Homo sapiens: one gene and its partners. The protein of the gene in region 1 purifies or fractionates together with the protein of each later gene. This does not show direct contact. Each region holds a gene or a part of one and is shown on either strand. Other genes may lie near its edges. The genes, in order: P2RX4, GALNT1 and EIF2B3.

Evidence for each region.
Region 2: the proteins of P2RX4 (region 1) and GALNT1 purify together in Homo sapiens (affinity purification with mass spectrometry; 3 studies listed by BioGRID and IntAct, with this or other methods). This does not show direct contact.
Region 3: the proteins of P2RX4 (region 1) and EIF2B3 purify together in Homo sapiens (affinity purification with mass spectrometry; 3 studies listed by BioGRID and IntAct, with this or other methods). This does not show direct contact.

Annotation. Positions count from the first base shown.
Region 1 is NC_000012.12:121,213,110-121,216,859, reverse strand, and holds part of P2RX4 (P2X purinoceptor 4), read right to left. Parts: intron 1-3,750. UniProt on the Homo sapiens protein: ATP-gated nonselective transmembrane cation channel permeable to potassium, sodium and calcium. CTP, but not GTP or UTP, functions as a weak affinity agonist for P2RX4.
Region 2 is NC_000018.10:35,579,736-35,583,485, reverse strand, and holds the start of GALNT1 (polypeptide N-acetylgalactosaminyltransferase 1), read right to left. Parts: upstream 1,747-3,750; 5' UTR 1,624-1,746; exon of another isoform or gene 1,618-1,623; intron 1-1,617. UniProt on the Homo sapiens protein: Catalyzes the initial reaction in O-linked oligosaccharide biosynthesis, the transfer of an N-acetyl-D-galactosamine residue to a serine or threonine residue on the protein receptor.
Region 3 is NC_000001.11:44,979,903-44,983,652, forward strand, and holds part of EIF2B3 (translation initiation factor eIF2B subunit gamma), read right to left. Parts: intron 1,276-3,750; 5' UTR 1,267-1,275; coding exon 1,119-1,266; intron 1-1,118. UniProt on the Homo sapiens protein: Acts as a component of the translation initiation factor 2B (eIF2B) complex, which catalyzes the exchange of GDP for GTP on the eukaryotic initiation factor 2 (eIF2) complex gamma subunit.

The DNA of each region.
Region 1 (3,750 bases):
TCTTTATTACATTTGAGCATTTTCTCTTTTTTTTTTTTTGAGACGATGTTTCGCTCTTGTTGCCTAAGCTGGAGTGCAATGGTGTGATCTTGGCTCACTGCAACCTCCGCCTCCCGGGTTCAGGCAATTCTCCTGCCTCAGCTTCCCAAGTAGCTGGGATTACAGGCATGCGCCAACACGCCTGGCTAATTTTGTATTTTTAGTAGAGACGGGGTTTCACCATGTTGGCCAGGCTGGTCTCGAACTCCTGACCTCAGGTGATCCACCCACCTCGACCTCCCAAAGTGCTGGGATTACAGGCGTGAGCCACTGCACCTGGCCCTTTGAGCACTTTCAATGCCTGTGACCTATGGGAATCACCAAGAGATAATACAAATTATAACAGTTACCACTGGAGTGTTTATAGGCACCAGGCACTGATCTAAGCTCTTTATATGTATTAACTCATTTAATCCTGACCACTTTATGAGACAGGTATCATTATTATTATTTCCATTTTACAGAGGAGGAAATGGAAACACAGAGAGGTTAAGTCACTTGCCAAAGGTCACACAGCTAGTGAGTGGCAGAGTCAGGATTTGAACTCAAGCCAGAAGCATCTGAAGCCTCTTCTCTCACCCACTATGCTCTACTCTAAGCTTGTCTAACCCATAGCACACAGGCCGCATGCGGCCCAGGATGGCTTTGAATGAGGCCCAACACAAATTCGTAAACTTTCTTAAAACGTTATGAGATTTTTTTTTGTGTGATCAAAAAAAGTTTGTTTTTTAGCTCATCAGCTATTGTTAGTGTTAGCATATTTAATGTGTGGCCCAAGATAATTTCTCCTTCCAGTGTGGCCCACGAAAGCCAAAAGATTGGACAACCCTAGGCTACTCTTTCTAGAAAAGAGAATTCTACCCTTTAAGGAACTTTTAAGAGTAGTTTCTTACTTTTCCCCCAAGAATTCTGGTCACATATATGGTTCTCTCCTCTGAAGTGGGACTATGACTACCAGTTTGAACAATTAAAAATCCAAAGGGGCTGGGTACAGTGGCTCACGCCTGTAATCCCAGAACTTTGGGAGGTCAAGGGGGGAAGATCATTTGTGCCCAAGAGCTCGAGACAAGCCTGGGCAACATAGGGATCTCTACAAAAAATAAAAAATTAGCCGGGCATGGTCAGTTTTGATTATAGCAAGATGGACAAAAGCAAAGCATTTACTGCTTTAAAGATTCTCGTGACTGAGACAGTGAATACGTCATAAGGAATCCTACAGAGCTGTGCTGTCCAATAAAAATCCCGGCTATTTGGGAGGCTGAGGTGGGAGGATCACTTGAGCCTGGGAGACGGAGGCTGCAGTGAGCTGTGATGCCACCGCACTCCAGCCTGGGCGACAGGGCAAGGCTCTGTCTCAAAAAAAAAAAAAAAAAAAAAACCATCTACAGGCATTAGCTTATAGGGGTTAGGACAGACTGGAGGCAGAGGTCTTGGTTCATGGCTCAGCTCCACCATTCACGAGGCATAACTTTGGCCAAGGTGCTTAACCTCATTGTGCCTCAGTTTTTCCCATCTATAATCTGGGAATGATAGTAGATCTTCACAGGATTCTTGTGAGGGTAAAAGAATTAATGTAGGTCAAATGTTTACAACAATGTTTGTGAGTCATCGTTGGTCACAGAGCAAGTACTGACACCGTGGAAATTGGCCAGTACTACAAATCAGAACCCCTCCCCTTCGAACTGCTGTTAAACATCTACTAGAGACTATCAGTGTTGTTATTTATAGAATCAGGAAATGCTAGGCTTCTCCTTCTTCTAAGTCCTAGATGCTGAGACTTCAGAAATTCACTGGTTTTGTTGAGGTCAGGAGTCCAAGACCAGCCTGGCCAACATTGTGAAACCCCGACTCTACTAAAAATACACAAAATTAGCTGGGTGTGGTGGTGGGTGCCTGTAGTCCCACATACTCGGGAGGCTGAGGCAGGAGAATCACTTGAACCCGGGAGGTGGAGATTGCAGTGGGCTGAGATCATGCCACTGCACTCCAGCCTGGGCAAGAGTGAGACTCTGTCCCTCCACCAAAAAAAAGAAAAGAAATTAATGGTTTTGTTACTTATGAGTGTGTGTGATCGAGCAGTCTCCAAGTTCATTGCCCAGCCTAGAGATGGGCTTTCCCCCCATGGGCTTTTCCCCTGACAAGTCCAGGGCTTCTAGGAATTCAGCTGCAGTGTAAGCTTCCATTTAATTCCAGTCTGACACACAAAAGCTTGGGGCAGGAAGACTGATGTACTCATCAAGTACAGTGAGTTGCTTAATTTAGAGACACAGGGTTTCATGCCACTCATTATCATGTGATTATTTCCTCCTCATATGATTGTTAACAGAGTTAGATAGATGAGAATTGCGTGTTCGGTCTTTTTTTGAGGGAGGGTTGCTGTAGGAGGAGACCACAATTTCACTAAGATGAGTTGCATCAAAAAGTTAAGAGATGAGGTTAAAAAAAAAAAGAGCCTTAATGCAGGTCCTGAGTCAGTTTTGATTATAGCAAGACGGACAAAAGCAAAGCATTTACTGCTTTAAAGATTCTCATGACCGAGATAGTGAATGCGTCATAAGGAATCCTACAGAGCTGCGCTGTCCCATAAAAACATAACGCGAGCCACATATTTTTTTTTTTGAGACAGGCTCTCGCTCTGTCGCCCAGGCTGAAGTGCAGTGGCACAATCTTGGCTCACTGCAACCTCCGCCTCCCAGGCTACAGCAATCCTCCCACCTCAGCCTCCCAAGTAGCTGGGTCCACAGGTGTGCGCCACTATGCCAAGCTAATTTTTCGTATTTTTGGTAGAGATGGGGTTTCACTACGTTGCCCAGGCTGGTCTCAAAATTCCTAAGCTCAAGGGATCCACTTGCCTCAGCCTCCCAAAGTATTGGGATTACAGGCGTGAGCTACCACAGGGCAAGACCCTGTAATTTAAAAGTTTCTAGTAGCCATGTCAAAAAGTAAAAAGAAATAGAAAGGGCTGGGCACGGTGGCTCATGCCTGTAATCCCAGCACTTTGGGAGGCCGAGGCAGACAGATTGCTAGAGCTCAGGAGTTCGAGACCAGCCTGGGCAACATGGAAACCTCATGATTGTAGAGATGAGATTTCTCATCTGTACAAACAAACAAACAAAAACACAATAATTAGCCAGTCATGGTGGTGTGCACCTGTAGTCCCATAATTCCAGAGGCTGAGATGGTAGAATCACTTGAGCCTGGGAGGCAGAGGTTGCAGTGCATTGCACTCCAGTCTGGGTGACAAAGCAAGGCGCCGTTTAAAAAGAAAAAAAGAAAAAAGAGACAGGAAAAATTAATTGTAATGATATATTCTGTGTAACCCAATATATCCAAAATATTTTAACATGTCATCAATAAAAAATGTTTTCATGTGATAGTGGTACTCTTTGTTTTTTTGAGACAGTGTCTTGCTCTGTTGCCCAGGCTGGAGGGTGGTGTGATCACAGCTCTCTGTGGCCTCAACCTCCCAGGTTCAAGCAGTCCTTCTGCCTCAACCTCCCAAATAGGTAGGCCTATAGGCGTGTGCCACCATGCCAGGCTAATTTTTGTATTTTTTTGTAGAGGCAAGGTCTCGCTATGTTGCCCAGGTTTGTCTCAAACTCTTGAGCTCAAGCGATCTTCCCACCTCAGCCTCCCAAAGTACTGTGATTTCAGGCATGAGCCACTGTGCCCAGCCTCTTTTTCTGTACTATGTCTTTGAAATCCAGTGTG
Region 2 (3,750 bases), on another chromosome or scaffold:
GCTTAAACTCTATTGAGAAAGCCAGGCATTTAACAAGTATTTGCATAAATGGTGAGTGCTCCCAAGAGTTTTGCAGTCTGCTGCTTAAGAGGCACCAAACAAACCAGCAGAGCAGTCATTAAACGCAGTTATCACCAGCACGCTGAACAAAGGCTTCTCAGGTTTCAAAGTGCACACAAATAACTTGAAATCCTGGTAAAGCAGATACTGATTCAGTTGATGTGCAGCGGGGCTTCACATTCTGCATTACTTGAGTCTGAGGTGACAGGGATGCTGCTGGTACACCATCCACACTTGGAATAGCAGGACTCGGAGTACCATGGAAACATCCTCAAAGGATCATGTAAAATGTCAATTCCAATAGGGCAAGGACATTGTGTCTCCCTTATTCACCATGTACCCAGAACTTAAAACTGTGCCTCATAGACAGATCGCATTCAGTAAATATTTACTGACACAACAAATGTATGTATAATTTAGACCAGGGCTGTTCAACTGTAGCAAAGAACCACATTTAGCTATGGAACACTTGAAATGTGGCTACTGTGACCGAGGAGCTGAATTTTTAAAATTTAATTTTAATAGTCACATGTGGTTAGTGGCTCCCACGCTGGACAGTCCAGGTCTGGACACAGATGTGATGTAAAGAGGACTGGACTAACAAGGTCTAGGTTTGAATCCCAACTCTGCTGCTCAGATTGTGACCTGAAAAGTTGCAACTTCTTAGGGCCTTCACTATTTCATCTGTGAAATGACAAGACCTCCTAACTCTCAGCGTTCTTGACACGATTATAAAGCAATGTATTAAACATAAGATATGATCAAAGTGACATTCTCTGCCCTCCAGAAACAGTTCAGAAAGACTACTTTGCCTATTGCCCACTTGACCAAAAAAATGCCAAGTGAGTTTGGTAGACGGGTTGGTTAGCTCAGTGGCTTTGAGAATGAGGACAAGGTCACAAATCTGGGGAGTAAGGGAACCTCATCTAGCAAGGCTGACCAGATAAGAGAAGCAATGACAATGCAAATCATCCCAATTCCTGGTAAATGCTTAAATGGGCAACGTATTGATTATGGATGAGTAAATGACATCTCATTCATTCATTCTTCCAGGAAAAGCGGAAAAGCTACTACATTACCTAAAGCCCGCTACTTCCCAACCACAAACATTTGCTAATTTAGGTCCGGGTCCTCCTCGGGGGCAGCGGGCCGGGAAGCCCCCTCCCCCGCTGCCGGCGTGTCTTCCCCTCCCCCGTGGCGCCGCGAGGGTCAGGCTGGCACCGCGGTTGCAAGTACCACACGGCCGAACCCAGAAGCCATATTTAGCTTTATTTTTGTCAATAAAACAAACTTCCGTCTTCTAAAGAAAAACGGTTCTAACTCAATGTCAAACTAGGACGGAAACTCGCTGCTCGCCAAAGCTGCCAACCAGAGACGCCGCGTGTCCAACGGCACCGGGGTCCCAGACCCGAACCCGCGCCGAGCGTGCCCGCGCCCCGGCCCCAGGCAGCGCCGGCCACAAAGGGACCGGGGACGCGGCCGCGGCGGGGCCTCTTTCTCCACCTCCGACCCGCGCGCAGCGCTGCGGCTCCGGGACTGCCCAGCCGCGGGCGATACACTCACCTCGCTAGGCGCGCGGCGGCGGCGGCGGCAGGCGTCCTCCGGGCCGGCCGCGGCGGTCGCGGCCGGTCCCGCGGCCAGCGCGCTACTCTCGGGCCGCCGTCCGCCGCGCGCTCCTCGGCCACTGCCGGCGGCTCCCCCGGCGGGCGGGCGGGTCCGGCCGGGCCCCGCTCCGCCGCGCCCGCCCCCGCCTCCGCGCCCGGCTCGGGTCGGCGGCTACTCCGGGCGCCCCGCTCGCGGGCTCGGGCGGCGCTACTCCGGGCCGCCCCGCATGCGCGCCGCCTGCCCGCTCACTTGGGGCTCGTCGCGCGGCGGGCGCCGCAGGGCGCCCGCAGGCGCTCGGGCGCGGTCCTCCCTGCGCTGCGTGCTCGGCGGCAGCGGCGGCGGCGGCCCGTGCGGCTGCGCGGGGGAGGCGGGGGCGCCGGCGCTCACCCGGATGCGCGCCCCCTCCGCTGCGGCGAGCCCACCGCGGGGCCGCGACGCTCCCCTCGGGCTCGGGACTCCGGGGTCGGGCGCGGCGCCCCTCCCGGACCGACCGCCCAGTCCCGGCCCCCGCTCACACGGCTACGGGCAGGGCCGGGCCAGGCCGAGAGGTGCCCCCGACCCTGGGTCGGGACAAAGAGGCTGCCGCAGCAAGTTAAAGACAACTCGGGCTGTTGCGCGTCGAGCAGGTCACGGGGTGGGAGGAGATGGAGGAGCCCTCACAGCGGATCGGCTCCCGGGCCGAGCGCGGGGCCGCCCCAACCCGGTCGGCTGCCTGAGGCGGCCGCGAGCGCGGGAGCTGGAGCGCTGTCAGCCGCGCTGAGCCTGCGCCTGGCGACCGCGATGCAGGAGGCCCGGGACTGAGGGAGGACGGCGAGAGCGGAGGCCCGCGACCCGCACCGCCGGGGCAGGCACCCGGGTCTCGGGGGCAGCAACGCCGGGGCCCTTGCAGAACGGGGACTGTTTGGGGAAGTGGCTCCCGCACAGTGCCCGGAGAGGGGCCCTCCCTCTGTGCCCCCTTGGGAAACACTGCTTGGTACAATTCCAATACCCAGCTGTACCCTGCCCTGAAGATAGAAGACAAAACCCTGGCTCTGTCACTCACGCGAGGCATAACCAACCATTCTTTTAATAAATTAATTTTCTACTTAAATAATTCAGAGGTTTGTGTCTTATTGCTTGCCAACCAAGAGCTGCAATAAGAGATTACTTAATATTTAAGTGGTCCCACTTTTAAATTTATATTACCTCTCACATAACCAAAAGGCTGTCCGAAAAAAAAAAAAAAAAACCTGAAGATTATCTCTGGAATTTTAGTATCCTGTTTTTGCTTGTCTACATCTTCCAAGTATTCTAAAATAAAAGTTAAAAGTTACTATTTTAAAAGTACTTATATAATATTTTGAAACAAAGTCAATCATGACTAGCCTGTTACTGTTCCACAAGGAAACTTCACTTTGGAATAAAGTTGTCATCGTTAAAAAATACTCTTATCTTGGGAGAAAAGATTGGCAAATCATATATCTGTTAAAGGACTTGTAGCCAGAATGTATGAAGAACTCTTACAACTCAGTAATAAGACTAATAGTCCAATTTTAAATGGGCAAAACAATTGAATAGACGTTTTACCAAAGATATTTAAATGATCAACAATTACATAAAAAGGTGTTCAACATCATTAGTTAATAGGGAAATGCAAATTAGAAGCACAACAAGGAAGTTCTTGACACCCACTACACTGGCTGTAGTACAAAAGACAGACAGACAATAGCAGTGTTGGTGAAGAGATGGAGAAATTAGAACCCTCATACGTTGCCTATGGAAATGTAAAATGGTGCAGCCACTTTGGAAAACAGTTTTCCAGGTTTTTTAAAAAGTTACACATGAAGTATTCTATCACCCAACAATTCCACTCCTAGGCGTATGCCTGAGAGAACTGAAGATAAATTCATACAGTAACTTGTACATGAATATTAATAACAGTGTTATTCATGATAGCCAAGAAGTAGAAACAGTCCAAATGTCCAGAAACTGCTGCGTGGATAAAATGCAGTATATGCCATACAGTGGACTACTACTCAGTAAAAGGAACGAAGTAGTCATAGAAGATACAACATAGAGGAACCTCAAAAACGATAAGCTAAGTGG
Region 3 (3,750 bases), on another chromosome or scaffold:
TTGCAGTGAGCTGAGATCACACCACTGTACTCCAGCCTGGGCGACAGGGTGAGACTCCAACATTTTAAATCTTCATTCAATACAAAGAGAGAGCTATTAAGCTACCACCCTTCCTATTGGAGGCAACTCTAATAATGGAATGAACACTGGATCACAAGACTGGGCCTCAGGCTTTGGCACCCTGATTTATTACATCTAAATATAGGACACCTCAAACTCAATGTGACCAAAGCTGAACTCATTATTTTAATGAAAATAAAATTCATTAAAACCTTTTCCTGGCCAGGCACGGTGGCTCATGCCTGTAATCCCAGCACTTTGGGAGGCCGAGGTGGGCAGATCACGAGGTCCTGAGATCGAGACCATTCTAGCTAACATGGTGAAACCCTGTCTCTACTAAAAATACAAAAACTTAGCCGGGCATGGTGGAAAATGCCTGTAGTCCCAGCTACACAGGAAGCTGAGGCAGGAGAATCACTTGAACCCGGGAGAGGTTGAACCCTGGCGGAGGTTGTAGTGAGCCAAGATCGTGCCACTGCACTCCAGCCTGGGTGGCAGCGTGAGACTCTGTCTCAAAAAAAAAACACCTGTTCCTTGTCTCCTATTCCTTTTCCTACTTAATGGCATAACTATCTACCTAGCTACCCAAGCAAAAAGTAGAGAGGATCACTAGACTTTAAAGTTCTGGAAGTCAGGGCCTGAGCTGTCTTTTCAATTCTGTACCTCCGTGTTTAATATATAACCTGGTACTTACATCAAAACAAAATTTAAAACATATATATATTGAATATCAGATAATATAAATATTACCTGGTACATAATAGATTCTCAGTAAGTACTGACTATGAGGCATTTAAGAGTCTCAATCTGCTCTTTCTGATATCTTTACAGAGTTCGTCTTGGATCATTGTGGACATCAGCTCCATAACAACAACACTTAGTGCTATCCTCTCAACCTTTTTCACACAGCAATAGAGTACTCCTACATTCCTTAAAGAAGGCAGTCTTCAGCCAACGAGTTCTAGTCACCCTCTCTCATTCTCATAACGCTGACAAATCATGGGGATCAAATCTCCTAAAAGTTTTATGAGTTCACAGCTCACTTTGTCATAGCTCACCTTCAAATCCAACACGCTCAAGCAGGTTCAATGGGTACCAAATTAAAGGTTTGTTCCCAACTGGAAGCAGAGGTTTGGGAATGCTGGAAGTTAGGTCTGTCATCCGAGATCCTCCACCTACTGCCATCACTACTGCTTGAAATTCCATTTTTACAAACTGCAAGTACAGAAAAAACAATTAACAGAAAAAAAACAATGTAACAAAAATCAAAGCACACATACTACTAGCCTATTTTTATTTAGGTTACTGATACCCACTATGTCAAATGCATAATTCCTAACTCTAGCAATCACAGTAAGAAAAGCTTAGCTGCAGATAAACATTATGTCTACCAATATGTATTCTCAGTTCTATCCTTGGTAAAAGTGGGAGGATAGGAATGCAGGGGCTTTGCCCTTGAGTTATTCACAATTAAGTGGAGAAGACAAATTCAGTAAATCACAATATATGTCATTAGTGCCACAGCAGAAAAATATCCAAGATACAGTGGGCATACAATAAAAGGAACACCTAGTTTTCATTGAAAACACAGAGAAGTTTTTATAGAAAGTGATGCTTGAGCTGACTCTGAAGAAGTAAGAGTTTACCAAGTGGACTTCTGATGTGTGAATTTTTATTCTTTGAAAATATTAGGCTGGGTGAGGTGGCTCACATCTGTAATCCCAGCACTTTGGGAGGCTGAGGTGTGTGGATCACATGAGCTCAGGAGTTCGAGACCAGCCTGGGCAACATGGCGAGACCCCATCTCTACCAAAAATACAAAAAATTAGCCAGGGGTGGTGGCTTGTGCCTATGGTTCCAGCTACTTGGGAAGCTGAAGTGGGAGGATCATTTGAGCCTGGGAGGCAGGTGTTGCAGTGAGCCGAGATTGAGATTGGACCACTGCACTCCAACCTGTGTGACAGAGTGAGATCCTGTCTCAAAAAAAAAAAAAAAAAAAGAGAGAAAAAAGAAAATATTAAAAGATGCCTGACTAGAATTAACAGCAGAAACACAAGCATGTTAGGCTTCTGAAAAGTATGAAATGACTTAAGACTCCTCCAATAATTCAGCCATCGGCTCATCTTATTCCTCCAATTTTTAAAGATATCACTATAAACACAAACGTAGGCTTGTATCTGAACCTAGATTTACAGAACACAATTATAAAAACAAACCAAACTGTTAATTCCTTTTTTCAAACTCAAGGTAATAAACAAACCTATTTGACTTTGAAAAGAATCTCTTTACAGAAACTACCACAGAACAGAGGCACAGTAGAAGGTCATAAATCTTTATTTATGTATTTATTTTTGGAGATGGAATTTCACTCTTGTTGCCAGGCTGGAGTGCAATGCCGTGATCTCGGCTCACTGCAACCTCCACCTCCCAAGTTCAAGCGATTCTCCTGCCTCAGCCTCCCGAGTAGCTGGGATCACAGGCATGGGCCACCATGCCTGGCTAATTTTGTATTTTTAGTAGAGATGGGGTTTCACCATGTTGGCCAGGCTGGTCCCAAACTCCTGACCTCAGGTGATCCACCGGAGTCGGCCTCCCAAAGTGCTGGGATTACAGGTGTGAGCCACGTGCCCATCCTATTTATTTATTGTTTATTTAGAGACAGAGTCTTGCTCCATTGCCCAGTCTGGAAGTGCAGTGGTAAGATCATGGCTCACTGCAGCCTCAACCTCCTGCACTAAAGCAATCCTCCTGCCCCAACCTCTGGAGCAGCTGGGACTACAGGTGGGTACCACCATGCCTGGCTTTTTTTTTTTTTTTGAGACGGAGTTTCTCTCTTGTTGCCCAGGCTGAAGTGCAGTGGCACGATCTCAGCTCACCACAACCTCTGCCTCCCAGGTTCAAGTGATTCTCCTGCCTCAGCCTCCCAAAGAGCTGGGATTATAGGCATGCACCACCACGCCCAGCTGCCCAGCTAATTTTGTATTTTTAGTAGAGACAGGGTTTCTCCACATTGGTCAGGCTGGTCTCGAACTCCCAACCTCAGGTGATCTGCCCACCTTGGCCTCCCAAAGTGCTGGGATTACAGGTATGAGCCACTGCACCTGGCCGCCTGGCTAATTCTTTTAATTAATTTTTTATAGAGATGGGGTTTCACTATGCTGCCCAGGCTGGTCTCAAACTCCTGGCCTCAGGCCTCCTGCCTGGGCCTCCCAAAGTGCTGAGATTAGAGGCATGAGCCACTGCACCTGACCGATCTTTACTGATTTAAACTGAAAGTACTTTCTCTTACAATGATGTAATTTTAAGAACAAATGTGTTAAAATGTAACGTTCAGAAGAAACAATCTATTCAACATCAAATTGCCAAATAATGTTGCAACTTTACTATAATTATTATTACTCCTGGGCCCAGCACATCAACATCTAAAGTGCAGCACTTAACACCTACTATACCCAAGGCACAAAGTGAAGGCTCCTGCATAACATTCACAATGTAAAGATATGGTCATGTAGATTCTAGCAAGCATTGCCTCAAAGTGTAATTTAATTTCATTTTGGTATTATATAACATCCACCACATCAAATGTTATTATGAAAAGAGCACTGGACCCTTAAGAGTCAAAAGATGAGCTGGACGTGGTGGCTCACGCCTGTAATCCCAGCACTTTGGGAGGCCCAGGCGGGCGGATCA